Regions from separate parts of the Homo sapiens genome. Here regions 1, 2 and 4 are each linked to region 3. The links come from fine-mapping of genetic effects on gene expression. A gene starts in region 3. Each other region holds a variant in brackets. All regions are shown on one strand. Distances are from middle to middle.

What was found.
Region 1: its variant is fine-mapped to the expression of NOL4L in whole blood (INTERVAL, PIP 0.96).
Region 2: its variant is fine-mapped to the expression of NOL4L in T cells (TOPMed, PIP above 0.99). The same link has a PIP of 0.9 or more in aorta, blood mononuclear cells, breast, gastroesophageal junction, lung and memory regulatory T cells.
Region 4: its variant is fine-mapped to the expression of NOL4L in whole blood (TOPMed, PIP 0.98).

The regions. Positions count from the first base shown.
Region 1 is chr20:32,526,765-32,534,835 of GRCh38, reverse strand. It overlaps NOL4L (nucleolar protein 4 like), which reads left to right. Exons shown (of 11, transcript NM_001256798.2): 2 at 6,923-7,078. Among named protein-coding and RNA genes, the nearest start is that of NOL4L-AS1, 30 kb to the left of the region's middle. RefSeq lists enhancers at 1-210, 5,525-8,071 and a silencer at 7,368-7,541. The variant C/T (reference allele first, on the strand shown) is at 3,491.
Region 2 is chr20:32,449,625-32,457,695 of GRCh38, reverse strand. NOL4L (nucleolar protein 4 like) reads left to right here. Exons shown (of 11, transcript NM_001256798.2): 6 at 1,301-1,578; 7 at 3,935-4,120; 8 at 4,201-4,392; 9 at 4,690-4,812; 10 at 5,259-5,460. Among named protein-coding and RNA genes, the nearest start is that of ASXL1, 95 kb to the right of the region's middle. RefSeq lists silencers at 1-41, 472-521, 532-801 and enhancers at 1-194, 195-1,110. The variant G/A (reference allele first, on the strand shown) is at 3,330.
Region 3 is chr20:32,581,908-32,589,978 of GRCh38, reverse strand. NOL4L (nucleolar protein 4 like) reads left to right here and starts at 4,646. Exons shown (of 11, transcript NM_001256798.2): 1 at 4,646-5,409. The coding sequence starts at 5,089. It overlaps NOL4L-DT (NOL4L divergent transcript), which reads right to left and starts at 2,500. Exons shown (of 3, transcript NR_034152.1): 1 at 2,423-2,500. RefSeq lists an enhancer at 3,994-4,073 and silencers at 4,264-4,453, 4,674-4,723, 4,784-4,943, 5,084-5,133, 5,474-5,673 and 4 more.
Region 4 is chr20:32,494,511-32,502,581 of GRCh38, reverse strand. All of the region lies in intron 4 of NOL4L (nucleolar protein 4 like), which reads left to right. Among named protein-coding and RNA genes, the nearest start is that of NOL4L-AS1, 63 kb to the left of the region's middle. RefSeq lists an enhancer at 5,121-5,637. The variant C/T (reference allele first, on the strand shown) is at 4,525.

The sequences.
Region 1 (8,071 bases), 55 kb after region 3:
GTCATGACTCACTGCAGCCTACACCTCCCCAGGCTCAAGTGATCCTCCCACCTCAGCTTCCTGAGTACCTGGGACTACAGTCGAATGCCGCCACGCCCAGCTAGGTTTTTTGCATTTTCTGTAGAGACCTCCTGGCGGCGGGGGGTGGGGGGAGTGGGGGTCACCGTATTGCCCAGGCTGGTCTTGAACTCCTGAGCTCAAGCGATCCTCCCACCTCTGTCTCCCAAAGTGCTGGGATTAGAGGCGTGAGCCATTGCACCCAGCCCTGACTGAATTTATTAAGGCTGGGTTTTGGGGACAGGAGGAATGGCATGATTGCAGAAGTTGGGAAGAGCATGCTAGTAATTAATATGCAGGGTAATTTTTGTCTGTGATCTCAGCCACTTTGATGGCCTGGATGGGATGGAGCGGCATCCTCACATTTGCCTGTGCAATCAGCCCCCTGAAGTCCTGGGCTCCCTCCCACGTGGTAGCCAAAGATTTGCTTCCTTTGGGGTGGGCTCTACTGGCTGACTTTCTCGTCCAATAGCAATCTCGTTGATTTTTATTCCTTGTCAAGAGCTGGATCCGAAATGCACCAGAAGGCCTATCCTAAGGCCTTTCTCTGTGGTTTTTTCTTCTACCATCGGAGAAACCCAGTTGAGAAATGTCTCCGCTATTTAGCCGCATCCTCTCAACCATGGCCTCGTCGTTGCTGGAAGGCACACTCTACTAATATAGTGATGGTGGCACACTAAATGGCACCCTGGTGGCCTAAAACTGTGATCCCACCTTGATAAGTATGTAACTTATTACCAGCAAGTGACTTCGAAGCTCTAATGGAGATGACAGAACTGCAATCCATTAGCAACTGGACCTCACTTCACCATCAGGGGCAGGGGTCCATTTAATTGGCTCATGTGGGGAGACAGGCAAGATTCAGTCCGATTCAGGAGCTCCCTGAGGTCGCCCCGGCAGGAGCCTGTCTAATGGCCTGGTAAGACATGCCGATCCCCCTCTTAGGTCTGCAGCCTGGGAATTAGCATGCTGAGCATTCAGATCCATCTGAGGAAAACGAGGAAGCCAGAAAGGACCTGCCAAGGGATGCCCTGCTTAAGTATTTATTAACTTTGCCAGGGAGGACTTAAAAATCTGATGTCAGGATGCAGGGCGTTCCTGCTCTTTCTATCCATAATCCACATTAAGTCTCTGGGCAGATGTGTTGAATTTATACTAATGTTGCCCAATAAGATTCTTTTGTTCTCACCATTAGGAAAATTGGCCTTCATCGGAAATGAAAATATTAATATATTAGGCCAGGAAGCACAGAGCATGTCTATATTTAATGAGCCAATACCTGTTTTCCTACAGTTACCTCCCTGGCTCAATCATGGAGACATTCTGATCAGCAGTTCTCAAAATCTGTCTTGCATCAGAATCATCTGGGGGGGCCTGTTAAAACCCCCAGCACATCAGATTTGGTAGGTTTAAGGTGGAACCTGAAAATGTGCATTTCTAACAAGTTCCCAGGTGATGCCAATGCTGCTGGTCTAAGGACCATTGCTGTAATATTTTGAAATATCAGATGTATTTAAGTAGACATTTGGTGATTTTGTCAATGACTTGCCACCTAGCTTTTCATTTAGAACCCAAATGGGCTGGTGTTAAGGGAGCTGGTGATGTCCAAGAATGTAGCTCCATAAATGTGTAGGTTTTTTTTGTTTTTGTTTTTGTTTTAGAGATGGGTCTTGCTGTGTTGCCCAGGCTAGACTCAAACCCCTGGGCTCAAGTGGTCTTCCCATCTCAGCATCCTGAGTAGCTGAGACTACAGGCATGCGCCACCATGCCCAGCTTCTCCATAAATTTTTAAAACTATTGCCATGTCTGATTCTGTTGGCCTGGCTCTGGCAGGCTGTTTGGGGGTTGGATGGTTCGAAAGGATGGTGTGTGTTACCATGGCAATGTTCTTCTCCATGCAGGAAGGCCCCAGAGGTTGATCCTACACAAGTGACTGTGTGTTTTTCGTGGTTCTTCCCATGGGGTGATACAGGGTTCCATTCCATTACTCCTGCTAGGTGTTTCCAGGAAGCTGGGATAGGCAGGAGACTCCAAGTCCCTTCTTGATCCAGCCTATAGATAAAGTGAACTTCCTTTGTCAATTCACTGTCCAGTTTGCTTAGGGCAATGGATTAGATGAAGCTAATTTGGGTACCAGGCAGAAGGGGGATGGCAGGGGCTTCCCAAGTCTACAGGGAAGGTGCTTTCTGCTTCCTTTATTAGCAGCTCTTCCCTTGCAGCACTGTCTGGATCCTTAGCTAGGGAAGGCCTGCCTCCCCTGCAGCATTTAGCATGAAGGTTATTACCTCCATGGATGCAAGGGATAGCAGAGATGTCTGCGGCACGTGACTACTGTCGGATCCCTTTGTTGCTGTCTTCTCAGGGTTCTCCTTGAAGGCCACGTAGACATCCTGGCGTTCTTCCCCTAGGGTGTAGCACACATGGAATCCAGGTGGCCCTAGCTCACCAGAGGACAGTTCAAGGTATGGCTCTGCAGCCCTTGCGTGGTTTGAGTTCTGGTCGCTCCAGGCCCTCTCCTTTCCTATGTAAATCTTTGCTGTAGAGATAGGTGGATTACAGGACCCAAATTTGAACATTAAGGGAGAAAGTGATCAATTTTTAAAGAAGGAACTAACTGAAAACTGCTTCCCTGAATAATTTTGCTGGGATTAATTTTATGGTCACATTGGACCAGGTGCAAAGCTGTTGTTTACCAGAGTCAACCTAAGAGGGCAGGTGGGAGGCTGGGAAGAGACAGGCCACATGGGACAGTACGTTTTGCTTTTTTATCTGGGTTGGTCAATTACACTTTGACTTTTGGAAAGCTTATTCCAAGTTTGTGGGAGCCTTAGCATATTATTTAGGAATTAAATAAGACTGTGCATCTCTTCTGATGGTGGGTGTTACTGAGGGGGACACATTTTGTCATGGGTCCCCTCTGGACGCGTCAGAGGGACCAGAGATAAGAGGAGATTCCTAAACACAAAATGTCCAGACTCAGAGGGGTCCAAGGGAAGAGATGAACATTAACCAAGTCTGTATGTGCTGGATGCCTGACATACATTCTTGATCCTTGGAACATCCAACTAGCACTTTTTAGGCCCATTTTATAGGTGCGGAAACTGACTTTCAAGAGGTATAAAAATAGGCCGGGCACAGTGGCTCACACATGTAATCCCAGCACTTTGGGAGGCTGAGGTGGATGGATCACCTGAGGTCAGGAGTTTCAGATCAGCCTGGCCAACATGGTGAAACGCCATCTCTCCTAAAAATACAAAAATTAGCCAGGTGTGGTGGCAGGCGCCTTTAATCCCAGTTACTTGGGAGGCCGAGGCAGGAGAATCGTTTGAACCCAGGAGCCAGAGGTTGCAGTGAGCACTCCAGCCTGATGGCAGAGTGAGACTGTGTTTCAAAAAAAAGAAAAAAAAAAAAGGTATAGAAATAAAGTAACCCA[C/T]CTAAGGCCCCCACAAGCTGGTTAGGGGGAAATTTCCATCTCACCTACATAAAATATTGTCTCCTCATCAGATTGCTTTCTTTCTCCATTCCTTCCCACAAAATTTTATCTCCTTCCTTTTCCAGAAATATCTGTGTTCTGGTCTGAAACAATTTTGAACAGGGAGGTCTATTGGCCTTTAAGCAGCTAAGCCTCTAGAGCTATGCCTCTGGATTCAGGTGATCCAAATGTGGCTGACTTCACTCTATACTTAAAAATGGTAAAGATGGTACATTCTGCATGGGTATTTTACCTGAATTTAAAAATTCAGTGGAACTACCCCCATGATATCCTTTTTAAAAACTGTTTTTTAAATTAAAGTTTATCAGACATACAGAAATACACAGATTATAAATGTTAAGGTTTTTGTTTTTGTTTTTTTTTTGAGATGGAGTTTCACTCTTGTTGCCCAGGCTAGAGTGCAATGGCGTGATCTCAGCTCACTGCAACCTCTGTCTCCTGGATTCAAGTGATTCTCCTGCCTCAGCCTCCTGAGGAGCTGGGATTACAGGCATGCACCACCACACCCAGCTAATTTTCTATTTTTAGTAGAGACGGGGTTTCTCCATGTTGGTCAGGCTGGTCTCAAACTCCCGACCTCAGGTGATCTGGCTGCCTGGGCCTCCCAAAGTGTTGGGATTACAGTCATGAGCCACCATTCCCGGCCAAGTGTTAAGATTTAATGACTTAATAAATTGAACACACTTCTATAACTACTGCCCAGATCAACAAATAGAAACCCAGCTATATTCATTTTTTTTTTTTTGAGATGGAATCTCGCTCTGTTGCCCAGGCTGGAGTGCGGTGGCGCGATCTCGGCTCACTGCAAGCTCTGCCTCCCGGGTTCACACCATTCTTCTGCCTCAGCCTCCCGAGTAGCCGGGACTACAGGCTCCCGCCACCATGCCCGGCTAATTTTTTGTATTTTTAGTAGAGACAGGGTTTCACCATGTTAGCCAGGATGGTCTCGATCTCCTGACCTCATGATCCACCCGCCTTGGCCTCCCAAAGTGCTGGGATTACAGGCGTGAGCCACCGCGCCCAGCCAAAACCAGCTATATTCATTCTTAAGGTTCATTTTGTTTATTTTCACCAATGTGAACCTCTGGTTAGAAGTGTATTATAACTGTACATCCCAAATCCATATCTTTGCTGAGTAAAAAATTTTTTAAAAGTCTAACTGACCTATCATAATATTTGTCCCATCCCAACCCTGTCATGGCAGTATATGAAGAGCCCTGTAATGCTGGGCATTTACGGGTCAATAGTGAACAAGTTAGTCATTGATCAGCCCGTACAGATGGCCTGAGATGTCGGAGGGGGTGGGATACTCCCCAAAAGAGGTAAAATTGATTCCTGAGAGAGGTTAAGAGCAGAAAAGTCATGGAACTTTACAGCTCATCTCATAAATGAAGCTCGGGGAGGTTGAAGGGTTTGCCCATAATCTCACAGCGAGGAAGCTGGACCAGCAAGTGGCTTCTCCTGTACACACAGAGAGAGAGAGATATGTGCTATCTGAGACGTCCCACTGAAATGGGTTCTGACCAGGAAGGAAGCCACTGGCAAGAGGGCCTTGTTGGGGCCAGTGAGGTCACCTCCCAGGGTTACCACTTAGGGACACTGCCCGCTAGCTGTGGGGCTCGGGACCCCACATCCCAGATGCCCTTTGCCCCCCATCTGCTCTCTGCTCTTGAATGGGCTGCTGGTGAAGAGACACTGCTGTTCGGCCATCATGGTGTGTCGAGAAAGCTACTGGGTGAAACCAAGACCTGTCTGTGCCAGAACGTGTTGTGAGCGAGCGTCACCTCCCAGTGTGGCCTGTATTCTACTTGGACTACAGAGTCCAAGGTCTGAAGCCATCTGTGCCATCCACCAGCCACTGTACCTCAGGCAGGTCCTGACCCTAACAACCTCCGAGGGTTGCCCCGGTGTTCGGCTCTCTCATACCTGGGGGAAACATGGTGAACTGCAAAGCACTTCTTAATAACAATATCTAGCAATCCCTGTACTCCAGGCTCAGTGCCAAGTGCTGCACACACAACTCAGTTCTTCATGGGAAAGGGGCTTCTGTTATCCCCATTTTACAGATAAAGGGCCTGAAGCTCGAAGCACAGTAAGTGCTCGGGGTCACAGGGCCACTTCCATGATGGGGCCGTATTCAAACCATGGCAGAGTGTGTCCAAGTGACCCTGCCCAGCTGCCACTTATGACCACTCAGTCATTCAGTCATTATTTACTGACTACCTACTATGTGTCAGGCACTGTTGTAAGTGCTGGAGAGAGCTGAGAAGGAGCAGGCGAAGCCCACATCCTCTTGTTGCTGACATCCTTGAGTTGGGGTCCTTTGGGGAAGAATTCTCTTGGAGATGTGTCTTTTGGGCACTTTTAGAGAAAAGCCTGCTTCCTTTCCCCTCAAATTCCCTCCATATGGCTTGCTCTTGATCTTCAAAGCCCCCTAACGTCCCCACAGACTCCCCTGAAGGAGCTGGTGGCTGACAGCCTAGTGTCTCTGGGTCTGTGTATCTCCCTTGTGAGGACTGCCTGCACGGAGCAGTTCCCCAGCAGTCCGTTCCCTTCCGGGCCCTGGCCTCACCCCCAGCCTCCTGCCCTGTGGTTTCCCTGCAGCCCCCTTTCCTGCTGGAGGGGAGGGCAGGCGTCAGCCCCACAGCTGTTTGCTATTGAAGGACCCGTCTTGCTCCTGGCACACCTAGTCGGGCCAGCTGACACCACTCAGCCAGCCTGATAAGAGGCTCGGGGCCCACGGCCGCCCCGTTCACACGGCCCTGCCACCTCCTCGTGGCCTCGTGCCTGTTATTCTGTACATCTCCACACACAAAGGGCCCGGGTGCCGTTGCTGGCGCTCAGCTGCTGGAGTGGGGAGGGCAGGCAGCCGCGAAAAGCTTTTCAGAAAGGCCAGGGCGGAGGCAGGAGTCACCCAGGTGATCGGAGCTGTTCCCCCGGGACCCCAGCCCAGGCCCACAGTGAAAGGTTACTGCTAATTGGCGAGCTCCTGATGGGGCCGCATCTATTTAGCACTCCCCCCTCCCCAGAGACTTCCAGGATGGTCTTGGCACAGCGTGTGATTCAAGAGCTCCCCGCCCGAGTCTGGCACAATCTGTCTGAAATTGTGAACATGGAGCCTCTTGGTTTTTTAATTTGTATTTTCGTTGTCGCCGTTCTCTGCCCATTGTTGCTGGTAGATTTCATAGCTGCAGCCACCCTGACTCTGGCGTCCCCCTCCAGGGAGCCCCCTCGGTAGGCTCCCTCCCCTCCCCACCCCAAGACCCACTGTCGGAGGCATTGCCCGTCCTGACCCCTTGCCCCGGCCTCAGGGCCCAGTTCTCACCCCGCCATCATTCCTGACACTAACACAGCTTGTCCACCCTGTCGCAGGGGGCAGATGGCCTGTCGGAGCCAGAGGGCATCTCTCTGAAGCGGGTCGCTGTGGTGGAAGATTTCTTTGACATCATCTACTCGATGCATGTGGAGAGCTCAGCGGAGCCAGGCAAAGCCCCCAAGCACGCTGGGCAGAAGAAAACCTACCGAGCGGTGAGATTTCTGTCTCTTTGCCTCCACTGGCAGCCCCAGGCCTTGGCAGGAGGCCACGGGCTCCGCACATGTTGGGCTTGGGGGGCGGGGCAGGGAGCTGAGGCGTGATGAAACGGCCTTTGGGGATCTAGGGGGGCACAGGGCAAGGGCACGGCAGCCAGAGATGGCTCACAGGGCGAGGGGAGGGAATCTGTGGTCTGAGCACAAAGGAAAAGCAGGTTGAAGGGGGTGAGAGGGAGGGAAGGAGAGGGATGAGGGCAGGAGGCGCCCTCCTCTTCCCCGTTTCTGCTTCACTTGCTCCCACCCGACACCACCCCCAGCCCCTTGCAGCCTGTTCTGGGGCTGGGGTGCTGGGGACAGATAATAATCAGAGGAGCAAATGCCTTCATGGCATGGCATTTACTGCATGCCAGGCCTGTCCTGAGCTCTTCCTATGTGTGAGCTCATCCTGTGAAGTCAGGACTGGGAGTTCCCCAGGGGAAGTCGAAGGACCTGCTCCCCACCCTCCAGGAGATCACAATTGGATTTGGGGTGGGGAGGCTGAGAGCAAAAACAAGATACATGAGAAGCAGAAATGTCTCCAAGGCTCGCTTTGAGAGAGCAAGAACCCAGGCTCAGGGGCATTTAGCACAGGCACCGCCAGACACAGATGAGCCCGGGGGACTGTGTGGAGAAGGTGACACCTGTACTGGCATTCTACGCTTTGGGGAGGCATAAGGGCAAAAAAGGCAACCTAGGGGCAGGAAGCATCACAAATGCCAGGGAGGTGGAAATAGATGGGACTGGCCAGACCAGAGGCCCCTCCTCACCCTGCAGAGGGGCCTGCCTGTGTTCTGATCCATCTCCTGCTGACCCACATGTGGGCCTATCCACAGCTCATACATAGCTCTGAACCATTTGTCCAGTGCCCAGGGAAGCCAGTAAAGCCAAGCCCTTCATGCTCATTCAAGCCTTGATGCAGTCCTGTGACCGAGGCACTGAGGACCCATTTCA
Region 2 (8,071 bases), 130 kb after region 3:
TGCTGCAGCCGAGGGGGAGGGGTGCACTGCGCCGCCGTGGCCTCCCATCCCCCTCTGCCCGGCCTGGCTGCATGATGGGCAGCCTGGACCCGCCCCCGGGCAGCCGGGAGGCCAGCAATTGGTTGGGGCGCTAGAGCCGCTCGGTCGCCATGGGGACGCTCTGGAGGTGCGCGTGCCCAGTGCCCAGCACCGGGGACTAAATCTTCATAATCTGCCGGCTGGGAGGGTGGGGGTGGGGTCCGGCGTGACCCTGGCCTGGGGGAAGGGGCGGCAGGGCCCGCTGTGACCACCCCTCCCCCACCCACTCTGGGTGCAGGTGTGGAGCCGCCAGGGTCACCCGTACCTCCCCGGGACCCTCGCGGGTGCTCACCTGACAGTGACCCCGGGAGTTCCCGTGCAGCTTCAGCCTCTGCCGTCTCAGCTGAGCAAGCAGGAGGCCGGGGCTGGGGCTGGGGCTGGGTGGGCAGAGAGGCCTGGAATGTATCTGGAACTGTCTGGTCCCCTGGTTAAAGTTTCCTCCCCCGCGCCCGCAGGCTGGCGGTGCCGCGCTCTTTGCGGCAGGGGGCGCCCTCGCAGTGCTTTGCCGGGGCTGCCCACCCTGAGACGCCGGGCAGGCCCACTCGGGGGCCGCGTGCAGACCCCAGACCTTGCAGCCCCGGCTTTGCACGTCCCAGGCCGTGGGGCCTGCACGGAGCGCAGATTCGGGGGCCACCGTGCCTGTGCCTAGGCTGCCAGGGCTGGGCTTGCTTACAGGAGGGAGTGAATGGCTGGAGGTCACAGTAGAGCCATCCTTCCTGCTTCCGGCAGAGGAAGGAGACATTTGAGGGCCCACCGTGGGCAGGGGCTCTGAGAGCTCGAAGCTGCAAGGCAGTGCCCGGCAGCAGGAGCAGGGTGGGTGGGAGGTGCGGTCCTGGGAGCTGGGGAGAAGGGAGAGCCTGGCCGGGCTTCGAGGGCCTCCAGGGCCCTCTGACAGGCCACTCACTCCCAAACCCTTGGAGCTCGGTCTCCCTTAAGCCTGGACATAACGCTTGCGAGTTTGGGGTGCAGGAAGACCCTCCATGCCCTGCACAGCCCTGCCTGGCCACACCCCTCCTGATGGCCCCTCTGTTCTGGCAGAGGGGACCCTGTGGCTGCCTCAGCTGAGGCTGTGGGCTGGGGCAAATTGCCTCTGAGGTGGGGTAGCAGCACTCACCCCAACCCAGGGACACTCATGAGGAGGACACAGGGTGGGATACTCCGAGGTGGCTGCAGTGGCCACAGTGCCTTGGGTGGGGCCTCACACCCAGGCCTCTCATTCCAGATGACTCCTCCTCTGAGAGTGGCAGCGGCAATGGCTCCTCCACCCTGAACCCATCCACGTCGAGCAGCACGCAGGGCGACCCTGCCTTCCCCGAGATGAATGGCAACGGCGCCGTGGCCCCCATGGACTTCACCACGGCCGCCGAGGATCAGCCCATCAACCTGTGTGACAAGCTCCCGCCGGCCACGGCACTTGGCACAGCCTCCTACCCCTCGGATGGCTGCGGTGCCGACGGGCTGCGGAGCCGCGTCAAATACGGGGTGAAGACCACCCCCGAGGTGTGTGGGGCTGGGGGCTGAGTCCATTTCTTTCTGTAAAGGGCTGTCGCGAGGCGAGAATGAAATTGTATACGCCCAGAGCTTAGCTGGAGCCAGCCCATGTGTGTGACACCGAGCCAGGGTGGTGGCTGTGGCTGGTATGTGTTCGGTTCCTGGTGAAGCTCTGGAATGGGAGATGGCTTGGAGTGTGCCCCCAAGCCAGGCCCCCTTCTCCGAGCCTGTGAAGTGGAGCTGACGGCCCCTGCCTTGGTAGAGGTGGTAGGTGGATATGCATCCCCACAACCCATCCCCCTCCCCCAGAACAGCATCTGCTGGGGATAACAGCAAGTGGCCACTTTCGGCACAGCCAGGTACGAGGCCTCCCACTGCCTGGTTTGTCTGCGTGCCTGTCCCCATTTTATAGGTCGTGCGAAAAAAGGGCGAGGGCCCAGGGATGTGGGCAGTGGAACTCCTCCTTTGACTAGGCTGATGGACGGTGGTAAGGGTGGGCACAGTACGTACCCCTACCAGTGGGCATCCCCCCTGCTTCCTGGGGCCTCCCCCACACTTCCACAAGCTGCCTCCGGGCCACTAAGGTTTCCTGTAGTAGTGCCTCTTCTCCAACCTGGGCCCGGGGGCCAGAGGTGCCTTCCTGGAGCTTACACCTCTGGACAGGCTCTTCTCCCTCTCTGGGCCTGTTTTCTCTTCTGCAGAGAGAGTGGAGTAGGTGCTACTGCCTGCCTCATTTGGAATGTCTCGTGGGGACATTCTGTACCATGGGCTCAGTGCTGAGTTGTTGCTATGTGTCTAGCACAGGTGGCTGGGAGCAGGTTCTGGCCAGAGCAGGCTTTGCCTGGGTCCAAGGGACAGGCATAGCTGCTGTTCCATGAAGGGGGTGAGTTGTGTTCAGCAGCCATTGCCACTGTGGCCACAGGGTACATGGGGGGCCCAGGGAAGTGAGATGAGAGCAGGAACGCCACCAGCAGCTCCTATCTTAGTTTTTTCTCCATCTGTCTGCCCTGGCCCTGGCTCAGGGTTTGGCTGAGGAGTGGCGTGGGAATGTGGCTTGCCTGGGGCCACACGGCCAGTTATGGTAGCCAGCGGGGGCCCTCGGCATCCTGCCCCTATCCAAGTCTGTATGTGGACGAAGAGACAGGCACCAGGCCAGTGACCCTAGGGCACCAACCCCTGCGGGCCTGGTCCCAGGGAGAGAGGCCTGGCGGGGGCCGTGCTGTGGGACCAGGTGCCAGGCAATGCCCTTCTTCCTGGATTTGCTCCTCAGTGAGTGCTGTTCCCTTCCGGGCTGTGCCATGGCCATGCTGCCACATCACAGGGTCTGACCATACCGCCACCTGTTCCCTGAGCCTGCCTTACCTGCTAGATGCCAACCTCCTTGAGGGCAGGGACAGTGTCCCCAGGCTACTGTCAGTCACGATCTGAACGAGTACTTAGGACACATCGAAGGCACAAACTTTCCGAAAGGCAACAGTGGTCCTCAGCCGTCCCAGAGCGGTGCCCCGAGGCAGGGGCAGGAGACAGGTGGTGTGGGAGCTGAGCCATGAAGGATGAGAAGATGGAGGGGCATGGGGGAAAAGAGGGAGCTGCTCCTAAGGAGAGATGGTTGAGGGGCTTGGCCAGGGAGAAACTCGTGGTGGGAGCAGAGGGCTGGAGCCCTTCTCTACTGGAGGACAGGAGACTGCTGGGGGAGGCCGGATCCGGTTCCCTCTCCCTTTCTACCCGCATATTCTCAAGGGGCCACTGTGCTGTCCTGG[G/A]TGGGGGGCAGACAGGAGAAGTCCAGCTCAGGAGCTGCGGGAACGCATCCTGCTGAACGGACCTGTCGCCCTGGCTGGCTACCTCGCCCAGCGCATCTGTTCCTCCTCCCGACAGACAGCATGCTCGTTGCTTTGGTGACAGCTCGGTTGTCAACTTGGGGTTGCAGCCCCTTGGGGATCAGGGAGGAAAACCCCGAAGCCAAAATATATCTTGGCACGAGAGGAGGCTGGCGGGTGGTGGGAGTCCTTTCCATGTCTGCCTTTCCCCTGTACACGTGGCAGGTCCTGGTGTTGGCCTCTGCTGAGGAAACAGCTGACACCCTCCTAAGCGCTCAGCAGCCCCGGGAACCAGGTCTCTGCATACACTATTGCAGTCGGTCCTCCCTGCGGCAGCCCAGGGAGGGAGGTGGTAGCATTGCTGTCCCCATTGCACAGATGAAGGGAGCAGAAGAGGGGAGTGACTTGCTCAGGGCCTCGCAGCTATGGCTCTCGTGGCAGCAGGGCATGCGTGCCACCCTGGTCCCCAAGCTCACCGCCTGTAGGAGACCCAGCAAGGGCTTGAGCAGCTGCTTGGCCCAACCCTCTGCCTCTTGCCCTCCTTTTAGTCCCCCCCCTACAGCTCTGGGAGCTACGATTCCATCAAGACCGAGGTCAGCGGCTGCCCTGAGGACCTGACAGTGGGCCGGGCCCCGACGGCAGATGATGACGACGATGACCACGATGACCATGAGGACAATGACAAGATGAACGACTCTGAAGGCATGGACCCTGAGCGTCTTAAGGCCTTCAACGTGAGCACCGGCCGGAAACAGGTGGGGTGGGATGGGGGCAAGGCCAGGGCCAGCCCTTCCCATGGCCCGTGTCTCCACAGATGTTTGTGCGTCTCTTTGTGGACGAGAACCTGGACCGCATGGTGCCCATCTCCAAGCAGCCCAAGGAGAAGATCCAGGCCATCATCGAGTCCTGCAGCCGGCAGTTCCCTGAGTTCCAGGAGCGGGCCCGCAAGCGCATCCGCACGTACCTCAAGTCCTGCCGTCGCATGAAGAAGAACGGCATGGAGATGGTGAGTCCCCCCTGCCTGGCCCACACTTTCCCTCGGTGCCACTACTGACCTCCTGCCACACTCCCAGGATGCCCGGGCCCCTTCACCCAGGGTCTTCCCAGGAGCCCTGGAAGCAAGTACCATAATCCCTGGTTTGCAAATGAGGGAACTAAGGCCCAGAAAGATCACACAGCTCCATAGACTGAGGCGCTGGAGCCCAAACCCCACCCTGTGCCACCCACCCCTGGGGCAGGGTCTCTGCACAAGCCCAGGGCCCCCACGGGCCCCATGCTAGCTCCATCCCCGTTCTGCCTGCAGACCAGACCCACGCCACCCCATCTGACCTCGGCCATGGCAGAAAACATCCTGGCAGCTGCCTGTGAGAGCGAGACAAGAAAGGCAGCCAAGCGGATGCGTCTAGAGATCTACCAGTCCTCACAGGTACCTGCCACCGCAGCCACTACAGGGGCCGCTCCTGGGCAGCCAGGGAGGGCAGGCCTTATATGGGTGTGGACTGAGGGAGCTGTGATGGGTACAGTCGGGAGAAGGGCAGAGGGGGAACAGGAGGGCAAAGACAAGGAGAGGAGGTGGGTGGAGGTCAGGTGTGTTGTTCTCAGAGCTCCTCAGACCTCATACGGAAGCCTGGACTTCATCTGGAGACCAGAGGGCCCTGATCAAATACGCTGACAGGGAGATGAGCAGAGTTGGGGAAAGCCCCCGGGGGGAAGGTGGCTGGGGGAGGGGACAGACAGAATCCCACAGGTCAAACCGCAGCATTGGGTCCCAGGAGTCCTGGGGCCGCAGCATTTATCCACCTTGTGTCCAGGGATGGTAGTTGGGGCCAGCTGCCCCTTGGTTTCCCCAGCGCCCCCCTCTCCCCTCTGCAGGATGAGCCCATAGCCCTGGACAAGCAGCACTCGCGGGACTCCGCAGCCATCACCCACTCCACCTACTCACTGCCAGCCTCCTCCTACTCCCAGGACCCTGTGTACGCCAACGGCGGCCTCAACTACAGTTACCGCGGGTACGGGGCCTTGAGCAGCAACCTGCAGCCCCCTGCCTCCCTCCAAACAGGAAACCACAGTAATGGTGAGTCGGGGGAGGCCTGGGCTCTGGCTTCCCGACCAGCACCCAGCTGGGTCTGCAGAGCAGCCCTGGGCAGCGGAATGGGGAGAGGGAAGCAGAGGCCAGTGATGGAAAGGGGCTGCCTCACAGCATAGGGAGCAGGAGGGGCGGCTCTGGCACCCTTCCACTTCATCGTCTTAGCTGGTCCTTAGATTGGAAGGTGAAGGAGACTCAGTTGGTTAAAGCAAAAACCTACCGCCCCCTTCTCACCGCCAGTGACGCTTGCTCCAACACTTCCCACCTTCACTACCGGCGCCTCTCACTGGTTCCACTCCCCCAGGGTCCCTGTGGGTGCCGAGTCCCAGCCAAGGGCCTGTTCTTGGCCTGAGTTGAATCTCCGCAGCCCCGTCTGTCTCACCCATAGCGACTGAGGCTCAGTGAGACAGCTGCTGGCCTGGCCCAGCTGTGGCCCCGCTGGCCTGCAGGGCGGCTCCCTCCCCAGGCCTCAGCTCAGGGCCTGCCTTGTGAGGTGAAAGCTTTCCTCACCTGGGTGCTGGGCCTCCGTTCTTGCCCCTGCATTCATGGAGCCTACATCTGAGACACCTGGGGTGATGGTGCACACCTGCTCCCTCGCTCCGCTCCTGTAGCTGGGTGATTCAGTAGGTGCTTTTCCGGTAACTCCCCAGGCTACTCTGCGCAGATGGGGCACAGACCATTAGAGGAGACAGCCCCCGAAGAGACAGAGGCTTCCTCATGGAGTCAGGTGCTGCCGTGAGCACGAACTGGAATGGGGAACCTCAGACCCCTTTACTGTGAGGCCAAGGGAAGCAGGGGAGGAGTGGGGTCAGCCTGGTGGGTCACAGGACCTCTTGGGCCAGGCACTCGGGTTGTGTTCTGTGTGCAGGAGGAGCCCCTGCTAGGTTTTAAGCACAGAAGGGCCGTGAATTGTGTGGTCTGTGTCATTCTGTCTGCCCCTGTAAGAAGGTTTGAATGGGCAGAGCAAGAGGCAGAAGCCATGTGCTTTGGGGGTCGTTCAGAAGCCAGGGAATGAAGGGAAGAATTGAGGAACCTGAGTAGGTTGGAGAAAGGTGCCACCTGTAAGCTGGGGAACCCTGGTGCAAGGTCTTGGCTAAACATGCCTGAGGATTCCCTAAGCCCCCATCCTTGGCTGCAGGAGACCCCTCACTGTTCCTGGGCAGCAAGGGAGGGAGCTAGTCCCCACCCATGGCAGGAAGCCCAGGCTGCCTCCACTCGCCTTGACCCCCGCCACCCCCCAGAACCAGGAAGTGTATGCAGGTCCCTGGAAGATTCCTGCCTGGGCTTAACTCCTCATCCCTTCCTAATGCCTCTTAACCTAAAATAAGAGGCCGCCTGGCCCTAATCCCTGAAGCTAAGGCCGGAGTGGCCAGCACGGTGAGAGGTGGAGTGGCTGTCCTAGGCGGGCTCCTTTCATTCCAGGAAGAAAAGCCCTGCCCCCCCTACACATGGGGGTCTGGGGCTCAGCAGGTGAGGTGAGGGTGGTCTGGGGCCTGCTCCCTCCTAGCAGCAGGCGATGGTGACAAGCCTCTACCTGGTGTCCACCCAGCATGACCTATTTCAGGGCTGCGGCTGCCAAGTCCCCCTGACCCTCCTAAGGGCCTCTCATATTAGGGCTGAGCCTGCTTCATGCCTGCCCGTTCACACCTGCCCAAGAGGCACAAACAGCAGCCAGAGAATGATTCTTCCAGGGAGGCAGCTGGCTCTGCCCTTGTGCATCCTGGGGTCTCAGTCTCCCATCTGTGAATACCCTGGTTCCTTCATGGTGGGTGGGGAGGCCACTGACGCAGAAATCTGGTCATTTACCTCCTTGCCTGGGGCAGCCCCTGTCCTTGAGCACTAGTACCTCATTTGAAGAACATTGTTTAAATCCTCCAGCAGTTGAAGGAAGACAACAGGCAGCCACGTGGTTGCAGGGCCACCCAGCCCCACTGGCCTCCCCAGCCTCAGCCTTTCAAGTATTGTTCAATCAGTTTGGTACCTCAGCCGGGCAGCCGTATTAATGGCTCAGAGCTCCTCACTTTGCTCATTATGTTGTCATCTGGAGATGCAAATCAGCTTAGATAGAATCAGGCTCGGCCTGTCTTGCCTGGGGTGCTGGGTAACTCATGCTCACTCCTATCCCTCTACCCACCATACGGCAGTCCCTCGGCAACCTGAGCATCTGGCTGTAACCAGAGTCTACACGGGGGTGTCTCCAGATCAGATCAGCTGCAGGAAACAGGGACCTTCTCCTTTCCAAGCCTCAGCTACAGCCCAGGAGAGAAGGGAGGAAGCTCTGAGCACAGGCATGAACAGGATAGCACTTGGGGAGAGGAGAAAAGAAAGGAACCGGGACCACTGCTCATGTTGACTATGCCAGGAGGCTCTGGCCACTCCCAAGCATGACGCAGAGGGGACCAGAACCACCCTAGAGAGAACCAGACCCTCTTCCCCCGCATCCCTCTGGGTCCATCCCCTGCAATATCCAGAAGTTAGCAGAGGCACTCCTGTTCCAAGCTTCTCAGTCCCGCATTGTGACAACACCCTGGGAGTCAGTCACCTGTTTGGCTGCTGTTTCCAGACACAGCCCCAACCCCTTCCCCCTGTGTTTGATTTT
Region 3 (8,071 bases):
AGGAGAAGCACAATAAATGCTGATGGATGGATTGATTATGGAGGAAGCATAGTAGCATGGTGGAAAATGCTGTAGACTTCAGTCTAGCACCTGCTTTTTGAGGATAAGCCCATTCATTCATTCATTCATTCATTTGGTTGGTTGGTTGCTTATTTATCCATTTATTCAATAACGTTTAAGCCTTAGCTCCTGTGCTGGGCACTGGTCGACACAGGTAATGAGGCCATCGTGAAATGCTGTGGTCAGAGCTGGGAGGGGGAAAGCCCAAGGCTCTATGAGTGACCAGAGAAAGCCCCTGACCCAACCTGAGAGGTCAGGAGGCCTTTCTAGAGAGGTGGGCGTACAGCAGCGGCTCAGCATGGCTGGCAGACTGCAGGGGGATGCTATAGAATAGGGGGATGGCAGGTGGTGGCACAAGCCCTTGATAGAAGGGGCACCAGCACCCAGTGGTGGTAACTACCTCTCCCCAAGGCTCTGGGGCCTCTCTGCTCTTCCTGGCCCTTGCGTGGACAGGCCTCTGTGGGAGCCTGAGTCACTCTGCCCCACCCCAGGCCTGGAACTTCCTGTGGCACAGTCAGGGCCACCTCACTGTCAAGTTGCAGGCATCCCCGCTCATCTGGGCCCAGGGTCAGAGCTCAGTGAAAGGCAGGTGATCTGGGCCAAATCAGGCAAAGGCCAGGTACCTGGTTCTGTCCTGCGGCCCTGAGCCTCTTTGCTCCTGTGGGACTCAGTTTACCCATCTATCAGAGGCAGGGTTTGGACTGTATACTCTGAGAACCCTTCATCACCAAGCTCTTGTGACCCATTACATTACTATCTGTATTCAGAGTGGACGTGAGCCCTGGGGGCTTGGACTCCCTGTGCTTCAACTCCAGTCTCCCTTGGACACCTGGACGAAGTGTGGAAAAAAAAAAAAATCCAGAGGCCGGGCATGGTGGCTCATGCCTGTAATCCCAGCACTTTGGGAGTCCAAGGCGGGAGAATCACTTGAGCCCAGGAGTGATTACGTTACTATCTGTATTCAGAGAGGACGTGAGCCCTGGGGGCTTGGACTCCCTGTGCTTCAACTCCAGTCTCCCTTGGACACCTGGACGAAGTGTGGAAAAAAAAAAAAAAATCCAGAGGCCGGGCATAGTGGCTCATGCCTGTAATCCCAGCACTTTGGGAGCCCAAGGCGGGAGAATCACTTGAGTCCAGCCTGGGCAACAAAGAGAGACTCTGTCTCTACAAAAAATAATTAAAAAAAAAATAGCTGCGTGTGGTGGTGCATGCCTGTGGTCCCAGCTACTGAGGAGGCTGAGGTGGGAGGATCACTTGAGCCTGGGAGGTAGAGACTCCAGTGAGCAGCAATTGCACCACAGCACTCAGCCTGGGAGACAGAGCGAGACCCTGTCTCAAAATTTTTAAAAATGCAGAGGATCTCCTGGCCTTTGATTCATGGGGCAGCCTACTTTTTCCTTTGGCAGGTGTCTGGAATGGAAATCAAAAAAGAGCAGCTGCCCCCTGGGACCGTGATTGCATCCCCCCAGGAGTTGGGCATTGTGGGAGACTTACCCCACACCCCACCCAGCATGCCCCTCCTAAAGGACCCCAGTGACACGGATAGGCTGAAGACCCAGGGTCTGTTTCTGCAAAAGTGGGGATGGGCCGCAGTAGGCTGTTCTCACTCCTTGGCTGTTCCACTCTCCCAGGAGCCCTTGGGGCAAGAGGCTGGGACGTGCCTGGTGCAGTGAGCTGTCACACAGTAGGGACACCTCCAGGCCTCTGACCTCCAAGACCACAGACCTCTGGACCCCTGCAGCTGCCCTCCTCTCCTCACTTCTTCTCTACCCCACAGTCCTGCTCGTTTAAAACTCGCCAGTAGCTCCCATAGCAGCTGGAATGCCATCCAAAGTATTTCCCAGGGTCTTCAAGACTCCTGCCCTCCAACCCCTCCTCCCTCACTTCAGTCTCACCACACTGGACACCTTCCAGCTTCTAGAAAATGCCAATCTCCTTCCACCTTGGGGCTTTTGCCCTTGCTCTTCCCTCATCCTGGAATGCAGGAACAGCATGCCTTGGCACCTGTCATTTAAGTCACTGCTCAGATGCTACCTCCTTAGAGGGGCCTTCCCTGATCCCCCTAAGAAAAGCAGCCCCTTCTTTGCATTATTTGCTATCACAGCTCTCTCTTTCCTTCGTGGCCCATTCCCCGGGCTGTTGTGATCAATAGCTGGTTTGTTCAATAGCCATCTTCCATACCCATTGGTGCACTCCCGTAGGGCAGGGACCTTGGGGATCCCATGACCATATCCCAAGCCCCTGCTGCACAATGGCTGCTAAACAAATGTTTGTTGAATGAATGAAGCACAAAAAGTGCCAACAATGCCTGTCTTCCTCCTTGAATACTTCGAGGCCCCATGAGGGAGAAAATGGCACTTACTGGGCACCCGTCACAGCTCAGGCACTCTCATCCTGTTGAATCTCTACATCTGTGACATCCTGTCCCGCTATACAGATGATGAAGTAGGGGCTCAGTGACCTGCCTGAGGTTACCCAGCAAAGGGTGGAATGATGGCTTCATTCCATTGTGAAGTAGCCAAGTGGGACCTGTGAGCATGAAGAATGCCACGCCAAATAATCATCAGGATTCACTTCCAAATCTGACTCCACCCGAAGCCCATGTTCTTTTCATTATACTATACATTCTGCTGTGCCAGAACTCAGCCCAAGATTGACAACCAGGTTTTTAGCTTCTGAAAGGCAGGCAAAGACCCAGCCTGGGTGGAGAGGTGGTCCGGCTTAGTGGTTATTGAAGTGGGTCCTGGAACTGGACAGAGAGACCAGGGCTCACACAAGGACCCCACCACCCAGGCACAGGGCATATTTGCCACAGTTATCATTACCATTGCCAGGCTAGAGCATCTCTGCTCTCAGGAAGAGTGTGCTGGAAGGATAACCGTCAAGGGACACATGGAAAAAGTCAGGGTCTGAGCTTCTTAATCACAGAAGCCCCTGCGCCCCTGGGGCTGGCCTTTGGGTAGTGCCTTCCCCGCTCTGAGTGGTCACCTCTTAAAAACGGGCATGCATACCAGCATAGATCCAAAAAGAGCTCTTGAGAAGATAAAGAGGAAAAATGACTGTGGAGTTGTTGGTGTATATAAAGTAACATGAAATGTAAATTATCTAAAAATAATCTCCCATGTGAAATGCAGAGAGAGGTTGGGGCTTGGGAGACCTCTAGGGTTCTTTCAGCATTTACTGGCACCTACTGTGTGCCAGGTGTTGTGCTAGGGCCTGTGCATATGAGGATGGGTCAGATATGGCCCTGAGCATCTGGAGCTCCCTGTCTACTGGGGGAAGTGAGCCAGGTATACACAGCGTGGGGCTCTCTCCGAGCGCGGTGAAAGGGGAAGAGTTTGTGTGTGATATGGCAGCAGCAGCCAGATGCACATGAGCTGAAACCCACCCCTCCTTCCTGCATGACCTTGAGCAGGTCAGGCCACCTCTCCAAGCCCCAGGTCTTCGTCTGTAAAATGGAGCCATTCCCTCTGCCTCTCAGAGTTGCCAGGACATGGCACGTAGTAGGTCCTGGGGTGGGGGACTTTGGGATGGGAGTAGACAGTAGTTCCTACGCAGGAAACGGTCCTGCACTAGACAAAGTCTGGGCCTCAGGACTTGGATGGTGACTTGCCTGCAGGAGTGTCATGGGGACATGGGGTGGACCCCCGGGGACAGCTGGGAGAGAAGTGCAGCAATTCCTCATGACCTGTTAAGGAAGTGGGGGGTAGGGGCACAGAAATCCTGGGGAATTGGCCTGTGCCTTTATTTATGTTGGTAATTTCATTAAGGGGGAGGGGACCAGCTAGCTCTACCCAAGGTCAGATCTGCCCAGGTAGGAGGGGGGCGGTGGGGCTACCTGAGTTTACTCAGCAAGAGATTCTAGGTCAAGGCGCACTCAGGAAGGCAGGGTGTCTCAGGATGAGTTTGTGGATGTGTTGAGAGTTTTCTGAAGCGGAGGTGGGATTGGGCTGAGGCCACAGGCGACTTCCCAGGGGGCCTGGGCCTGTCCCAGAGCAGTGGGGCAGGCAAGCAGAGGCAAAGCTGGCCAAACTTCGGGGAATTCAGGGTGAGGCAAAAGGAGAGGAAGTTTGGGGGCCCCGAAGGGCGGCGATGTGGGGTTCCCCCAGGGGAACACTGCTCTTCTGGCTTCGGCTCACGGGAGAGGTCAAGTCACTTGCGGGAGCGAGGGAGGGGGAGCCTGCCCTACACCTTCCCGGCCTGGCTAAGTGGGGCGGGGCGGCCGGGAGGTCGGCGTCTGGGCTGGGGTCTGCGCCCTACTCCCCGCGGGACCGCCGCGTCCGGGAGGAGCGGGGCCTGCGAAGCTCCGGGCCCGGCCCGGCCAGACGGAACGCGGTTCCTGGGCTGGGCACTGCGCGCCTGTGGTTCCTGCCCTCCCGGCGGCTGCGGGCGCGGCTGCCCCCGCGCCCCCAGGGGCCGGGCCGGGCGGGGGCTGGGCCCGGCGGGCGGGCGCAGGAGGAAGGGGGGGGCGGGCGGCGGCGAAGGCTGCGCCGCTCTAACAGGTGGGATCCCGCGGCGTGGTGGAGGCGGGCGCGGGAGGAGGAGGAGGAGGAGGAGGAAGAGCCGCGGCAGCGGGAGCCTGAGCAAGAGCAGGATGAGCCGCGCAAGCTGACAGCCACTGCTGCCGCCCGCGCCCAGGCTCGGTCTCGCTCCCAGCGCTCGGGGCCGCTCCCCGCCTCCCGCCTCCCCCGGCCGCCCGCGGGGCGGCCCGCCCCCTCTGCACCTCCGGGCCCGGAGCTGCCTCCATCGCTCCTGCATCCCGGCCGGGGGGAGGAGGAGGCGGAGCAGGAGGCGAGCCGGAGCCGCCGCCGCCAACGCCGCCGCCGCCGCCCGAGCAGGACAGAGCGCGCCGCAGCCCCGCGCGTCCGGCCGCCGCCCGCGCCCATCCAGCAGCCTCGCCGGAGCCACACCGCGGGACAGACGCGGCCGCGGCGCGTCCCGGCCCGGTCCAGCCCAGCCCAGCCCAGTCCCGGCACCGGGCGGCCCGGCGGCCGGCCCGCCCCCGAGGGCGCCGGGCGCGGCGGGAGGATGCCGAAGCCGACGCTGCTGCTGCGCGGGGGCTGGGAGCGCGAGCGCAGCCCCGGGGACTCGGAGCTGGGCCGCCAGTTCCGGGACTGGTGCTTGCGCACCTACGGCGACTCGGCCAAAACCAAGACGGTGACACGCAGCAAATACCAGCGGATCGCCGAGGTCCTGCAGGGCGGCGGCGGGACTGGCGCGGGCAGCGGCCCCGCAGCCGGCGAGAAAGGCAAGTTCCAGTTCTGGGTGCGCTCCAAGGGCTTCCGCCTGGGCAGCGGCCGGGAACCCAAGATGGGCCAAGTGGTGTATGTGCCGGTCAAGACGGGCTCGGTGAGTGCGCGCGCGGCGGCCGCGGGCGGGTCCCGCCGCGGGGCTTGGGGCAGGCGGGCGGGGGCGGGGTGGGGGTGTGGATGTGTGTCCGAACGTGTGTCCCTGAGGTTGTCCGTGTGTCGGGCCCGCCGGAGGCGCACGCGTCCCTGCTCACCGGCCCTTCCCGGCTCGCCTGGGCAGCGCTCCGGGTTCGGGGCGTCCCTGCCCCCCTCCGCGCCGCTGCCCGGGCCGTGGCCGTGCCGGGCAGGCTGTCCCGGGCTGCTCACCCCAGCATGTTCCGTCCTCTTGTCCCCTCCCCCCGCCAGCAGGCGGCTGCTCTGGAGCCCGAGCCTCCCCCCGCCCGCCCCGGGGCTGCCTGTCCCGGGCGCCTCGCGCTCCCGCCCCCGGGCCGGCTGGGCGGTGTGTGTGTGTGTGTGTGTGTGTGTGTGTGTGTGTGCGCGCGCGGAGGGTGGTGCCGCGGGGTGGGGGGGGGGGAGGGAGGCAGGGGCAGCCGCGGGACGGGGAGTCCGCCGGGCCTCCCAGCGCCAGGGGAGGGGGCCCGCCCGGGCACTGTCGCCCCGACCCCACCCGGGGCTGGCCCGGGGAGGGGCGGCCGGAGCCGCAGCCTGGCGCAGGAGCAGCCTCCCGCGGGTGGGTGGGGCGCCCCCTCAGCCCCCCGGGCCCCTCGTTCCCCCTTCATGGGACGGGGGAGGCCTGACCTATCCATCCCCTCCCCTCCCCCGTCCCCCGGGCCGGCCCGGTCCGGGCGGGGTGGCGTGGGGGAGGGGGCGGGGAACCGCAGCCGCCTAAAGGGAGGAGGCGGGCGGCCGGGCGGGGGCGTCCCCTCTGGCCCGGGGCGCCCTGGAGAGGGCGTGCGGCGCGGGCCCCGCGGCTCCCCCGCCGGGACCTCATTGTTCTGCAGAGGGTGGGGGCTGGGGGGGGGGCGGCCGCTCCCGGGGCGCTGCTGAGCTTTGAACTTTCCGTCGCCGAGACCCTCCATTAGTGCGTTCCGCCCCCGGCCCGGTCGGGCCGCGCCGGCCTCCCCCCGCCCTCCTTGCTCCCTCCCCGGCCGGAGCGCGAGAGCCGGGCCGCCCCGCGCCGGCCTCCCTCCCTCCCCCGCTCCCCCGCTCCCCCCTCCGCGCTCCTCCCCCGGCCGGCCCGCCCGCCCCGCGCTCAGCCCCGTCCCCGGCCGGAGCGGGCTCTTCACACACAATTGATTCGGTCGTTACGAAAAGTGCACTTGTCCCCTCCCCCTCCCCCTCCGCGGCCGCCCGGGCCGGGCCCGCGGGGTGAGGGGGCCGCGAGGGAGGGAGGCGGGAGCCGGGGAGCAGATCCGGAGGCGCCTCCCCCCGCGCCCAGGGGACGGGGCTGCAGGCCGCGGGGAGTGGGAGCCGCGAGCGCGGAGGGCGGGCGGCCCATCTGCGAGGAGCGCTGATAACCGCGCTGCGGCCGCCAGCAGCCCATCTGCGCCGCTGCCGCCTCCGGCCGGACCGGGAACAGGGGGCCGGGCAGAGGGGCGCGCCGGGACCGGGCTCCCCGAGGGGGAAGCTGGGGCAGTGACCCAGCCCGCGCAAGGCTGGGACCCTCCCAGCCTAAATCAGCACTCTCGCTCAAACCCGGCGAGTCTGGGTCATTGTCCCCTCCCCCGATCGAGTCCAGGACCCCTCCCCCAGCCCAAATCAGTGCCACTTTCCCAGATGGGGAGTATGGGTCAGCCCTCCCCACCCTGCCAGGTCGGTCCCCTCCTCGGTTCTCCCATCTTGGGTCACTGCCCCCCGCCGGAGGGCGGTTTTTCTGAGGTCAGTGACCCACGAGATGGTTGGCTGGGTCTTGCCCCCTACCCTAGGTCAGTGCCCTCTGCCATCAGGGCTTCCCGGGTCGGTGCCCCACCCCACCCCCCCATCCTGGTTACACCTCCCTGAAGAGCTGGAAGCCTTGGCCCAACCTTCTTAGTCTGAGGCAGGAGCCCTGAGTCCACCCTCTCCTGGAGTTGGGGGGTGACCCCCCAGACCTGGCAGCTGGCTCACTGGCTTTCTGTGTGGCTCGACTTCTCCCTAGGGAGTGGGCATCTGGAGCAGTCGTCCACTCTTTATCCACACAGCTGTAGAGGCTGAGCACCCCCTCCCCCTATCCAGGCCACATGCAGAAACTGGGTGCTGGGCCTGGACCCCAGGTCCTGCCGGCCCAGCTGCTGGCTTCAGATGCTCCTTGAGACCCACGCTGACCCGCTCTGCCTGCCCCTGGCAGCGCGACCGTCCCCAGTCTCCACCCTGGCTCTCAGACCAATAATGAGCCCTCCCCAAGGGACCACCTGCCTGGGAGGCAGAGAAAGGGGACCCAGGCCTCCCAGTCCAGGCTGCCAGGAGATCGACAAACACAACAGACGTGCCCTCCCTCGACAGCCCGCCCCTCGGGCTCCCCACGCCCGCCTGCCTGGCCTGCTGGTCCCGAGAGCCCGTCAGTTACCTGCCACTCGCCCAGCCAGCCGGAGCCAGGCAGGAGATGCCACCCCCATCTCCAAGTTCTTTCCTGGGGCCCAGTTATTATTTTTATATTTCCATTTTCCTTTTCACTGATCCAAGAGGAACAAATCCTGCTGGGAATTCTGGGGCAGCCATTGGCCTCTTCCTGGGAGGGGCTGAATGGGACCTCCTTTGAAAGGTGCAAAGGACGTCTCCCTGGC
Region 4 (8,071 bases), 87 kb after region 3:
GGAGTCTCACCGTCACCTAGGCTGGAGTGTAGTGGCGTGATCCTCACTGCAGCCTCCGCCTCCCGGATTCAGGCATTTCTCTTGCCTCAGCCTCCTGAGTAACTGGAATTACAGGCGCCTGCCACCAAACCCAGCTAATTTTTGTACTTTCAGTAGAGACGGGGTTTCACCCTGTTGGCCAGGCTGATCTTGAACTCCTGACCTCAGGTGATCCGCCTGCCTCGGCCTCCCAAAGTGCTGGGATTACAGGCATGAGCCACCACACCCGGCCTCTAGAATACATTTTTTAAAATCATATAGAAAAATAGCAGACCCTGCCCCAGCCTCCCCACTTCAATTTCTACTCCCTAGGGACAGCCTCTTTTCTTTCTTATGTTTTAGCTGTCTCTTCTGGTATTTAACTCCTATTTTGGAATAACCTGCTTATACTATAAGTTCTTGATTTTTCAATTGGGGCTTTTGTTGTTGTTAATTTCTTGCTGTAGGAAATAAGTATTTGCACTCTTACACCCTCTCATAAATACACTTATTATTTCTCCTTCCTCCATCCTGCAACATATCTATACCTCTCTATTTAGATAAATTGCTATTCATTGTTTATATTATTATGACTGTGTGCATATTACTCATAGCTGACCCAATTAACATATGCTATGATTACATTTCCTTACATTTCCTTTCTTCGGATTCCCCAGAGTTAGTCATTGCCTCCTTTTCCCCATCCGTAGCTCTCTCTCTTTTGATATTGCCTATGCTGTGTGTGTTGTCATTTTTATTTTTATGTACTCAGATGTATCAATTTTTTCTTCAAATCGCTTCTGCATTTGAGTCTTAAAAAGGCTAACTCCACTCCATCCCCCATGTTTTCTTTTAGTATTTTTATGTTTTCATTTTTTTTTTGATAGACTATTTTTGAGAACAGTTTTAACTTTACAGAAAAATTGGGAAGATAGTACAGAGTATCCACATTGCCCACTCCTCGACACACAGTTTCCCGTATTATCAATGTCTTATATTAAGGTGATACATTTGTTACCACTAATGAACCACACTGATACATTATTGTAAGTAAAGTCTACAGTTTATTTAGATTCCTTTAGCTTTTACCTAATTTCCTTTTCTGTTCCAAGATTTCATCCAGGATACAACATTTAATTTTCATTGTAACATTTAATTCCATTTAATTGTCATGTCCCTTTAGTCTTCTTTGGGCTTTGACAGTTTCTCAGACTTTCCTTGTTTTTGATAACCTTGACAGTTTCGAAGAGTACTAGTTGTGTATTTTGTAGGATTTAGAAATTTGACATTTTTCTCTATATAAAACCGGGGTTATGGGTTATTAGGAGGAAGACCACAGACATGGAGTGTCATTTTCATCACATCCTGTTAAGGGTCCATAATATCAACATGATTTAGGACTGTTGCCATTGGCCTTGATCACACCTGGTTGAGATATTGGTTGTCAGGTTTCTCTCCTGTCAAGTGACTTTTCCCTCTTTCCACACTGTGCACTTGGGAAGGAAGGCACCGTGTGCAGCCCACACCTGAAGAGTGGGGAGTCATGTTCTGCCTTTTTTAGGGTGAATTATCAACGTAAATTATTTAGATTGCTTATGCATAGGAGATTTGTTTCTCCTCCCCCACTTATTAATTTATTCAGCCATTTATAGAAGTCGAGACTCATAGCTGTTTATTTTATGCTTTGATGATCATTCAATACTTCTTCATTTTGTTGTACAAATTGTTCTAGCTTTGGCCATTGGAGCTTTTTCAGTTGTTTCCTGTGCTCTTTTGCCATACCTCATTGGTGTTTGGGGTTTTTGTTTGTTCGTTTCTTGTTTTTTAGTGCTTCTTTGCTTTCTGGCACTGTAAGACTCCAGGCTCATCTTGCATATTTCCTGCCCCAATCCTGGAATCAGTGATTTCTCCAAGGAGCTCTGATTCCTTTTATTGGAAAACCATATTAAAAACCAAAATATCGGATCGAGACCATCCTGGCTAACACGATGAAACCATGTCTCTAGTAAAAAAAAAAAAAAAAAAGAAAGAAATACAAAAAAATTAGCTGGGCGTGGTGGCAGGCGCCTGTACTCCCAGCTACTTGGGAGGCTGAGGCAGAAGAATGGCATGAACCCGGGAGGCGGAGCTTGCAATGAGCCGAGATTGTGCCACTGCACTCCAGCCTGGGCAAGAAAGCAAGACTCCGTCTCAAAAAAAAAAAAAAAAAAATCTGGCTGGGCATGGTGGCTTACACCCATTATCCCAACACTTTGGGAGGCCAAGGCAGAAGGGTCTCTTGAGTTCAGGAGTTCAAGACCAGCCTGGGCAAACCTCATCTCTATATATTTTGTATAAAACAAAACAAAAAAACAAGATCTGGGCACTATGTGTGCCCATTGGTACTGAAGTATCCTTTCTTGCAGGCTCTTCCAGCTGACAGAGCAAAAAGCATACATGTTTTTATTTTCATTTTTTATATTTAATCTTTGATCCATTTGGAGCTTATGCTGACGTATTCTGAGATACAGATTCCGCTTAACCCTTTTGTCTCAGCATCATTTGTTAAATACTCCATTTTCCCCCACTGATTTGAGATGACACCTTTAAAACTTACTAAGTTTCCATCCAAAACAGAATCTACTTCTGTTTGGTCCACTGGGCTCCTTGACTATTCATGTAGCAGCTACCAAACTGTTTTAAGTGTGAAAACTTTATCATATGTTTTAATATCTAGTAGGAATTGTTCCTCTTTTGTTGGCTTTCTTTTTAAAAGTTTTGCTGGCTTGAAAAAAGGCATTACTTTGAAAAAAATAATTGTTCCTTTTTTTTTTTTTTTTTTTTTTGAGACAAGGTCTCCCTCTGTTGCCCAGGCTAGAGTGCAGTCGCAAAATCTTGGCTCACTACAACCTCCGCTGCCCAGGTTCAAGCAATTCTCCTGCCTCAGCTGACTGAGTAGCTGGGACTACAGATGCCTGCCACCATGCCCGGCTAATTTTTGCATTTTTAGTAGAGATGGGGTTTCACCATGTTGGCCAAGCTGGTCTGAAACTCCTGGCCTCAAGTGATCTGCCTGCCTCAGCCTCCCAAAGTGCTGGGATTACAGGCATGAGCCACCACACCCAGCCAAAAATTGTTTCTTTAATGCCTAAAAATGTTTGTATCCGCTTTTTGGTGGAGGAAAAATACTGCAGCAGCACCACTGATCTGACCACATGAGCATTATGTGAAGACACTTTATCCCAGGCCTCTTTGTTCACTGACAAACAGAGGTGGACTGAGAACCAGGAGCACCATGAGCCCAGTGTCAGGATCGGGGGGCTCTAAACATGGACAGCACAGCATTCCCCATCCTCCTAAAATGGTATCATGCAAAATAGGGCATTTATTTAAAAAAAAATTTTTTTTGGCCAGGAGCAGTGGCTCACGCCTGTAATCCCAGCACTTTGGGAGGCCAAGGTGGGCAGATCACAAGGCCAGGAGTTTGAGACCAGCCTGACCAACATGGTGAAGCCCCGTCTCTACTAAAAATACAAAAATTAGCTGGCGTGGTGGCAGGAGCCTGTAATCCCAGGTACTCAGGAGGTTGAGGCAGGAGAATCACTTGAACCTGGGAAGCAGAGGTTGCAGTGAGCTGAGATTGCACCACTGCACTCCAGCCTAGGCAACAGAGCAAGACCAAGACTCTGCCTCAAAAACAAACAAACACAAAAATTTTTTAAGTAGAAACAGTGCTTCACTTTGTTGCCCAGGCTGATCTTGAACTTCTGGGCCTCCCAAAGAAAATAGTGCATTTCTTTTTTTTTTTTTTTTTTTTTATTGAGACAGGGTCTCACTCCCGTTGCCCAGGGTAGAGTGCAGTGGTGCAATCACAGCTCAATGCAGCCTCGACTTCCCAGGCTCTAGTGATCCTCCCACCTCAGCCTCCCGAGTAGCTGGAACTACAGGCACACACCACCACACCTGGCTAATTTTTTGCACTTTTTATAGAGATGGGGCTTCACGTGTTGCCCAGGCTGGTCTTGAACTCCTGGGCTCAAGCGATCCTCCCACTTTGGCCTCCTAAAGTGCTGGAATGACAGGCATGAGCCACCATGCCCTGTGAAAATAGGGCATTTCTAAACTTGAGAGGGAATGATTTATCAGAAAGCTTTTTTTTTTTTTAAGAGAACAGAGAGAGGCGTGAAAAGCTCATTGTCAAACATCTTTTGTTATGGGACATTATTTTTGCAATCAGTATATGTTCTTGAACATCCTGGGGTGCTTTCTAGAAACTTACTACAATTTCCAAATTCTCACAGAAAATGAGCATTTCCTCTGTTTTGTGAGGGCAACCTGAGCTGGGAGAGGTCTGTGTCTTTTCTTTCCTCTCACTTCCCTGAAGCTGTGTGGGAAAGTGGAAAACAGCCACCACCCTGTCTGGAGAGCCAGTGTCTGGTGGGGTTGGCAGATACCCCGAACCTGAACAGCTCATTGTCCCCAGCAGCTCCTTGAGGCTCGAGCCCCTTCCGGGCTGCAGACCTCCAC[C/T]CCTACAAATGCGAGAATGCCAAGGTGGCCTTTCAACTTTATTATCTGGGGGAAAAAATGCAGGAAGCACTCGTAATTTACTGGTGCAAGCAGGAGAGCTGCCTGGTGCCATAAGCAGCAATACTGCATGCAGGGCTGGCCTCGGGACGCTTTGTGTGTGTCAAGGGAAAAGCTTGCACAGGTCAGGAGCTGCTACCTGGGCGTCCATGAATGAAGGGGGGAAGTGGCTCTGTCCTGTCAGAGCTCTGGCAGTAAAACACCCCTGCCAGGCAGCCCAGGGAGCTGACTCCGGTCTGTTTCTAAGGACAAGAGAGACCTAACAGGAAAGGAGACGTCTTTCCTGGGCTGGGCCAGGAAGGAGCAGCTCAAAACATCCAGATGGTCCCTGTACTGATGGCTGCCCTTGTGACCGCCACAGCCTAACCAAGACCCAGAAGGGATTCGTGATCTTGTGGCTAAGTCCCGTTCCGTTTTGCAACTAAACTCCTCACTCCAGCTTTTGGGTGCCTCTTTCACCCAGAACTAGTGGGATATTTTGGGCAGGGTGCTTTTCTGCAGCCGTCCCTGGTTTTCCTTGCTTTTTATTTTGAATGCGGGACCCCTGATGGCTTTGTCAAGCCTTCTACTTAAGGCACTGAAACTCAGGCAGCTCAGCCCCCTGGCAGCTGAGCATTTAGTGGTTGTGACTTTTACACAGGTTCTTGACCCACCCTGACTCTTGTCAGCCTGATGGGTCCTTTTCATGTGGGGCCCAGATAGGCCCTGTCACCCCCAGCAAAGAGCAGCTCCAGGAGACCTGACTCCATGGGGCGGGTGGGTGGGCCAGGGCTTTGTAACCAGACCTGGAGGGTGCAGGAGGGTTTCAGACGCTTCAGCAGCTGATGTCTGGAGATCAATTAGAGATAATGGCTTTGGGTGGACTGGAAGAAGCATGGCCAAGCTTTTTCCTGGTCATGATTGTGTTTACCTCATTATCGGGCTTTTTTTTTTTTTTTTTTTTTGAGGGTAGGAGGGCACAGTATTGCTTTGTGAATTTGTGCTGTCTGCTTTGTTTTGCTCGGGGTGACTGGGTGTGGATCCCGGCAGGCGGGTAGCTCCCCGACCCCTATTCAGACTGAGAGGCACACAGCACAGCTGCTGCTCACGGCCGACCAGACCCTTGTCCTCCCTGCAACACAGCATTATGTAGTTTTAAAGAAATTTCCTAGGCCAGGTGTGGTGGTTCATGCCTGTAATCCCAGCACTTTTTGGGAGGCTGAGGCGGGTGGATCACCTGAGGTCAGTTCGAGACCAGCCCGGCCAACATGATGAAACCCTGTCTCTACTAAAAATACAAAAAATTAGCCAGCTGTGGTGGCAGGCACCTGTAGTTCCAGCTACTCGGGAGGCTGAGGCAGAAGAATCACTTGAACCTGGGAGGCAGAGGTTGCAGTGAGCTGAGATCATGCCACTGTACTCCAGCTTGGGCAACAAGAGTGAAACTCTCTCAAAAAAAAAAAAGAAAGAAAGAAATTTCTTCCTTCCTTCACTCAAAAATCATTTCCGAGGTTCCTACTACATGCTGGAGGTCATTCCAAGCACGGAAGATACCACAGTGAATGAGACAGATAAGGTACCCATCCCTAGGAGCTCACAGGCCTGGAGATGATAAACAAGGCAATATAAAAAAATATGCAAAAGGAGGAAATTTGGGGTAGATAATTAAAATAGAGTAAGATGACAGACTGTGCCTCAGGGCAAGAAGGCCTCTCTGAAGAGGCAGCATCCGAGCCAAGGCCTGAATGGTGAGAAGTGGCCAGCCCTGCAGAGATGAAGTGGGAGGGCTTTCCAGGCACAGGAGACAGCACATGCAAAGACCCTGGGGTAGGAACAGCAGTGGGGCTCAGATAGAGGAGTAAGGGGGAGCTATGCCTGGGAGCCGTCTTCAAAGGCAGCTCTCCCAGGGCCTGCCAGCCGGGTGCACATGTGTTGTGATGTGAAGCCTAGTGGTGATCTTTCTCTGCCAGAGGGAAGCAGGGCAGGGACCTGGGCCTGTCTCAGGTCGAAAGTGGAGATGAGCACCTGAGAGGGAGTCCAGCGACTCTGGTTCTAGGTGTGCCTCTGCCCCACGAGTCATCTAACTTCTTTTATTGGGGTGCAGTGATATGATCACAGCTCACTGCAGCCTTGACCTCCTGAGCTCAAGCAATTCTCCCACCTCAGCCTCCTGAGTAGCTGGGACCACAGGTGCTCAACACCGCGCCCAGCTAATGTTTGTATTTTTTGTAGGGATGGGGTCTCGCCATGTTGCCCAGGCTGGTCTTGAACTCCTGGGCTTAAGCATTCCCCCACCTCAGCCTCCCCAAAGTGCTGGGACGTGAGCCACTGCGCCCCAGCCATCTAACTTCTTCATGCTGCAGCTTCCCTGTTACTAGATCAGCAGGTTTGGGTCAGACATCTGTGGCTTTCAAATTTTACATTTTGATGGAGGAACCCCTTTCTTCAAGGGACTGTCTTCTGGGGAGGAAGTTGAGTGGGTCAGGGGTCAGCAGCAGACAGGCATGTTGCTGGCAATGCTGGGCACGGAGCCCAGAGCCCGCCTACCTACCCCTTTCGTCCCCAGCAGCCCATCTGCCTCTCCTGCACCACCTCAGGAATAGGCCCGGGCAGCCCTGAGCTTTGGCTTGCGGTGCCGAAGATAGTCAAGGAGAGGGGCTCGATCCAGCACAACCACAAGCAGCCTCCTCGACAGATATGAGTCACAGAGCCCATGCCCTGCCAGCCCCATGGTCATTCTAAGGCTCTGGCATTTAGAATGGCTCTAAATACCTCAAGAGATAAGATAGAAACAGAAGATGTTCTTTAACTGGGATACTCCTGTGGCTGAGGAAGTGCCCAGGCACACTTGTGCTGCAGCCGTGACAGTTTTCCCTCCTTCAGAGTCCACAAGTGAGGGAACTAAATGCTTGTCTGCTCCCCAGGCACCACAGTACGCACAGCAGGTGCCTGGACGTAGCGTAGCACCCCTGTGTCCTCTTCAAAGAGTCAAGAGGCTCCTGTGTCCTCTTGAAAGAGAAAAGGCCACATGGGAGTGGGGGATCCTTGCCATCTAGTCCACCCGCGGACAGGAGCCATGTGAATAAGCCAGGAATGCTTTTGACTACAGGCCCCCAAACCCAGTTGACTATAGCAAAACATGAAGTTATTTTACTCCTAAAACAAGAAGAATGGAGGAGCCGCCGCTGGTGCCATTTGCAATGTTGGGTTGGTGTCTCTGTGATGTTATTGAGGCTTTTCCTCATGGTTGCAAGTTGCCTGCTATTGCTCCAACCTTGTCCACATTCGAGGCATTGTGTTGATGTCTCATTGCTGCAAAAGGGTCACGTGGTTCCCAGTTGTAAGGGAGGCTGGGAAAGAAAGAATTTCATGTTTCTACCCTCTGTGGTTGAAAAAGATAAGGGAGAATGTTGATTCAGGGCATAATATCAAGAAAACTGGTTCACAGTCTCTGCCACAGCCTGGGCACCATCAACTAAACTTTGACAATCACTTTGGGTGTTAAGATGCC